Linked DNA regions of Homo sapiens: region 2 is linked to region 1. The links come from fine-mapping of genetic effects on gene expression. Tissue or cell type: monocytes. Region 1 holds a variant in brackets; the other region holds the start of a gene. All regions are shown on one strand. Distances are from middle to middle.

The links. PIP is the estimated chance that this variant, and not a neighbour inherited with it, causes the effect.
Region 2: it holds the start of MIR600HG, and the variant in region 1 is the best candidate, but not a certain one, in a credible set for the expression of MIR600HG in monocytes (Quach 2016, PIP 0.67).

Annotation. Positions count from the first base shown.
Region 1 is chr9:123,343,938-123,346,621 of GRCh38, reverse strand. No RefSeq gene overlaps it. Among named protein-coding and RNA genes, the nearest start is that of CRB2, 11 kb to the left of the region's middle. The variant T/C (reference allele first, on the strand shown) is at 1,536.
Region 2 is chr9:123,114,156-123,116,839 of GRCh38, reverse strand. It overlaps MIR600HG (MIR600 host gene), which reads left to right and starts at 1,363. Exons shown (of 1, transcript NR_026677.1): 1 at 1,363-2,684. It also overlaps a transcript of STRBP not described here.

The sequences.
Region 1 (2,684 bases):
ATACACACAAACATATTCACATCCACACACACACACACGCACACACCTATCCCAACACTCGAAATCGAAATACCCAGATACAGAACCCTCACAGAACACACCCCCCACACAAATGCAAATATGTGCAGAGATACACAACACACCTACAAGATTCAAAAATATCCTCAGTACACATCTACAAACACACCAGTCCCACATCCACAGACACACAGACCCCTATGCAATCATAAAAGCCCAAACACCTGTGTACCCAGCGCACTGCACAGCCCGGGAGGCCCGCCAGCAGCCGGTGGACAGGGCAGAGCTGCCGTGTCCCTGTGCTCACATCCAGGGACAGGCCTGGAGACCCCGCCACCCTCTGCAAGGGTCTGGCAAAGTGCCACCTCCTGTGGGAGGCCAAGGACACCTGGCCCCTCAGAAGTGCCTGGGTCGATTTCACAGCCACGTGCCAGGCAGCCTGGCTCAGGGGCCACACTGACCTCACCCTGGACAGGAGCGTGTGAGCATGTGTTCCAGTGTATGTTTTACTGGGTGGGGGGGTGTGTGGGGAGCTATGGCAGGAGCAGCATAAAGATGACAAGAGACAGTTTACCTACTATATCAGCCTGCTTACCTCCCTCCCTTGCTCCCTCCTTCCCTTCCTGCCTCTCTCCCTCTCTTCCTTCCTTCCTCTGCTATTCAATAAGGACCTTTAGTGAATCCGGCAAAACCAAGACACAGCCTCTGCCTTCCAGGAGTGCAGTCTTGGCGTAAGCAGACATGCCTGGGGTTGAGCTGTTATAAGACACATTGTGATCATTGCTAGGAGGCCTCAGGGAGGCCTGGCTTTCATCTGGGGCTGTGGGACATTGAACGATTCACGTCCTTCTCTGAGCCTCAGCTTCCTCAGCTGAGAGAGACCACATGCTCCCTGACCACCTGTCGGGTTTGTTAATAGAATCAAATGTCATGATGAAAGTGGCAATGCTTAGCGGGGACAGGGACATTTTTCTTAAAATAAGAGCCAGGTCTGTGCTAGGCTGTGCATCAGATCTGTGATATGGGAATGTGGTTAACTGCATGGGCCCTGCAGTCAGGGAGTCTTGGCTGGGTTCAGATCCCTGCTTTGCCAGGACTAGCTGTCTGAGCTCCAGCTTGAGCTTCTATTTTCTCATCTCTAATATAGATGCAATAATAATAATATCCAATTTACATGAGTGCTATGAGATAACGCATGTTAAGCTCTTAGAACAGGGCCTGCCGGCCAGGCGCCATGGCTCACGCCTGTAATCCCAGCACTTTGGGAGCCCGAGGCGGGTGGATCACGAGGTCAGGAGATCGAGATCATCCTGGCTAACACGGTCTCTACTAAAAATACAAAAAATTAGCCAGGCGTGGTGGCGGGTGCCTGTAGTCCCAGCTACTCGGAAGGCTGAGGCAACAGCGTGAACCCTGGAGGCAGAGTTTGCAGTGAGCCGAGATTACACCACCGCACTCCAGCCTTGGCGTCAGAGCGAGACTCCGTCTCAAAAAAAAAAAAAAAAAAGAACTGGGCC[T/C]GTCACAAAGTACATGCTCAATTAAGCTCCTATTCTATATAGGCTGTCATGTATTCATACAACAAACACTGAGCACTTACTATGAACCAGGCATGATTCTAAGTGCTCTCCAAATTCTAACTCATTCAATCCTTTTAACAACTCTATTATTATCCCCTTTTTGCAACAAAGAAAACTGAGGCACAGAGAGGTCCAGTCACTTATTCAAGGTCACACAGCTGGTAGAAGGCAGACCTGGACTGAAACCCAGGTCTGTGGGACTCTCTGAATCTATCTACAAGGTATGTACTTCCCTTTTATAGTTCAAAATCCTCCTCCCCTCTCCCCAGCAGCAGCCCCTGTTAAATAAATCATCCAGTAACGGTTTCTAATTCCCAGACTTGGTTGCAAATGAATTATTCACATGGTAAGGCCTGCAAACTGCCGGCTGGGCCTCATTACCCAAGAAAGGCTGCCCGCCCGCAAGATGCTGCTCCCTCCCCTGGGCATGGGTCCTGGCAGGTTGGCCAGAGGTGGCCAGAGTTGGTGGGCCCCGCTCCAGTGCCCTGCTCCGGGAACTGGGAAGAGCAGCTCTTTTCCTTTCCCCCGGCCCTTGCTTTCTAATAAGCTCACAGTCTGATGTGGCTGAGAGACCATAAGCTCTGGACTCAGCCAGTCCTGGGTTCCAATCCTGGCTCTGCCCTTAGCAGCTGTGTGACCTTAGGCAGGTGGCCAGCCCTCTCTGAACCTCTGGGGGAGGCTGAGCAGCTGGCCCACACAATGCGGCACAGGGCACCACTTCACACTTCCTCTTCTTCCTCCATTTGCAGGCTGAGGCTTGTGCTGCCCCTCCAGGCCCTGTGCTAGATGCTGGGGACAAAGATCCTGTCCTGTGGGGACATCCAGCGTCTGACTGAAACACTGGTGTGAGCCTGAGCTTTGGGGTGGGTTGTGGGGACTACTCTGTGCTCCAGAGCCCCTCTTCAGGGCCAAGCTGCTGGGACTGCTGTTACCTCACTGGGTTATACCCCATGCCAGGGACAGCCTGTGGCCAGTGCCTGACCCATGTGTGGCTGCAGAGGCACGGCTCCTTCTCAACTAGGAAACCCTAGGGGATCGTCAGCTCCAGGGGTCCTCGTAGGGACCTCAGTTGCAACCTCACGGTGGGTC
Region 2 (2,684 bases), 230 kb after region 1:
AGATGCTTAGATAAGGTGACTTGCCCCAAATTATAGTGCGGTGAGTGGCGGCGCTCACCCCGTCTGAGGCTATGCTGTGTGCAGGTGGTTTGCGTCGCTAGTAGGCACCAATGTCCGTTCTGTCTTCCAAGCCCACTTGGCAGCAGTGGCTTCTCTCTCTGTGATGTGTTCGGCTCACCTTTCCTGTAGGCTTCTGGGCTATCCCCTGTGCGCCTTGAAACCAAGCAAAAACCAACCCACATCTCCCTGATCCTTCCTTAGCCTCCTAAAATCCAGACTTTCTGGGCTCGTTCTTTTTCTGTTCCTTTGTTAGTGTGCTACTGGGCAAGGTGACCAACTGGTCAGCCCTGGGCCAGGCAGCCTGTTTTTTTGTTTTGTTTTCTTTTTTGCCAGCTACACAGTTGGGGTTAATTTCTACAGACCATCATTTTATACTGTAACTGAACCCTATAATAAAGTGCAAATTCAGTAATTGCTACTTGGAGAGCTCCTCAGGGGTGGGAAGGAGGACAGGGGATGTGCTGTTGGAAGTATGTGTTTTATGTTCCGCCTCATCCACACTTTGGTTTTTGGCCACATCCTCCGTTCCTGGCTCGGCCTTCAAACATGTGCTCTAACCCATGGGATCACCGTCACAGTAACACATTTTCCAGAGCAATCTGGTGTTGGGATCCCCTTGGATTCTTCCATCATGAGACTTCTCGGAAGTCTCAGCTTTCTAAAAATCCCTCATTCCTGCAGAGGCTACGTTAAAGGAATATGGTAGCCATCATCTGGGAGGTAAAAAACCTATGGAAATTGGCACCTGGGGAACTCAGGAAAGCTGAAAGCACCTTGAAATGAGATGGAAGGACCAGAAGGTTAAGGCTGGTGAAGAGGAGACCTGGAGAGAACGTGGGCACTCCTGCCAGGTATTTTTAAGGGATTATATTTATTTGTTGTATGTGGTTCCAAAGGGTGAAAGACAATTATGGGAAGCCAGTGGGGCAATTTGAGCTAAAATACACCTCCCGCGATGACAGACGCAGCCTTGAGAGAGCAGCTGAGGTGCGACATGAGCTCCCTGTAACCAGCATGTTCAAGCAAGAAGCCGGTTGTGTGGACGGCAAAGAGGAAATGCTGTGGAATGTCAGTTTGGACGAACTCTGATGTTGACTGGTGATGCTGCCAAGACCATGTCTCCCTTCTTGGGCACGTAGATTTATTGAGAAAAACCATTCACTGTCACCTACTGCTTCTTACCAGGCTCTGTGATGGGGGAGAAGGAGCAGTTGGAGAAAATGTCAGAATCTGCAGCTTAGACAACTGAGTAGAAGGTGAAATCATTGACCCAGATGGAGAGTACAGGGAGGGGAAGAAAGAGGTGCAGAGGATTTGAACAGAATGAGAGTCCTCCTCTGTGCAGGGAGAAAGGCTTCAGTGGGTCTCCCCCTCCCTGCTAGGGATCCTCCTTGCCAGCCCTGGGCTGGGCGCTGGCAGGCCCGTTCCCAGGTCTCCCGCCGAGGGCAGGAGAGGAGCCAGGCCTCAGGAGAGAAGTGCTTACTGAGTAATTTACCAAGAGCGATAGGCTTCCCACTGAGCCAGACGGGATCCCCAGGAGGGGAGTCAGAGGCGGGCCTGGCATGCATGCACAGAGAGAGTGTGCCCACTTGGGGAGTGTGAAGGGCCTTGCTGTGGGACCCGAGAGGATGAGCAGAGTCAAGTGGCAGGTGGGACACACAGTCTGCAGTCACTTCTTAAAAGGCCCTGGGTGGTGTGTCCTTCAATGATGACCATTGTCCACAATAGTGAGTTCCAGAGGGTCGATTGGGACAGTTGGATAGCCAAGGACCAGAGTCAGGAGGCAAGGCTGATGAGCAAGAGGCTGTTGCCATTGGCCAGGCGAGGCGTGAGGGAGGCTGATGGAGCGCAGCAGCAGAGGGATGGAGAGGCAGGAATGGCATCTCCTCACAGGCCAGGCTCCTCTGCCGGATTGGGTAGGGACGGGAAGATGATGGCCCCCAACCCTGGGCCAAGGAACAATAGCACCCATCCGGGGGCGGGGGACCTGCTGGAGTACTTCTCCTGGACCACTGCTCAGTGGGCAATAGAGGGAACAATGGTGTTTCTGACCAGGACGGGGGAAGGCAGGGGAATGGAGGAAGATACTGACAGGGTACAGAGGAGGTAGAATGGAGCGAGGGCCATCTCCACCGGGCTAGGAAATGGGGCTTTGGTGGGCCACACTCCATTGTGCTGGAGCACTCTGGCATCTCCATTGGCAGTGGGGAGGGGCTTGTGACCTATCAGCATCTTCACCCTTTCTGAGTTTCCGCCGGGCTGGGCTCTCCAGCCAGGAGTCACAGGTACCGGGTGGTTGTTCATGCTGAGGCCTTTTGCTTGGCAAAAAGTTAATCCATTTGTGTTCATTTTTAACCTAAGCAAGGGTTGGAGCTTGTTGGATTCAGCATCTGTGGAACACAGTCTGTAGCCCATGGGAAGACGTGGACATTCTTTCCCAAGTTCTTGAAGGACGGAAAGGACCATGAACTTGTGAGGTGACCGGAGGATTGGTTTTGGGTGTCAGTTTTGTGTCTGTCCCAGTGCTGCCACTTTTGCTTTGAAATGGACGGGGAGAGCTGAAGGCCAGCATGGGTTTCTGCACCTGTTTCCTACAGCTCTGCTGGGGACTGTGGCTCAGGTGG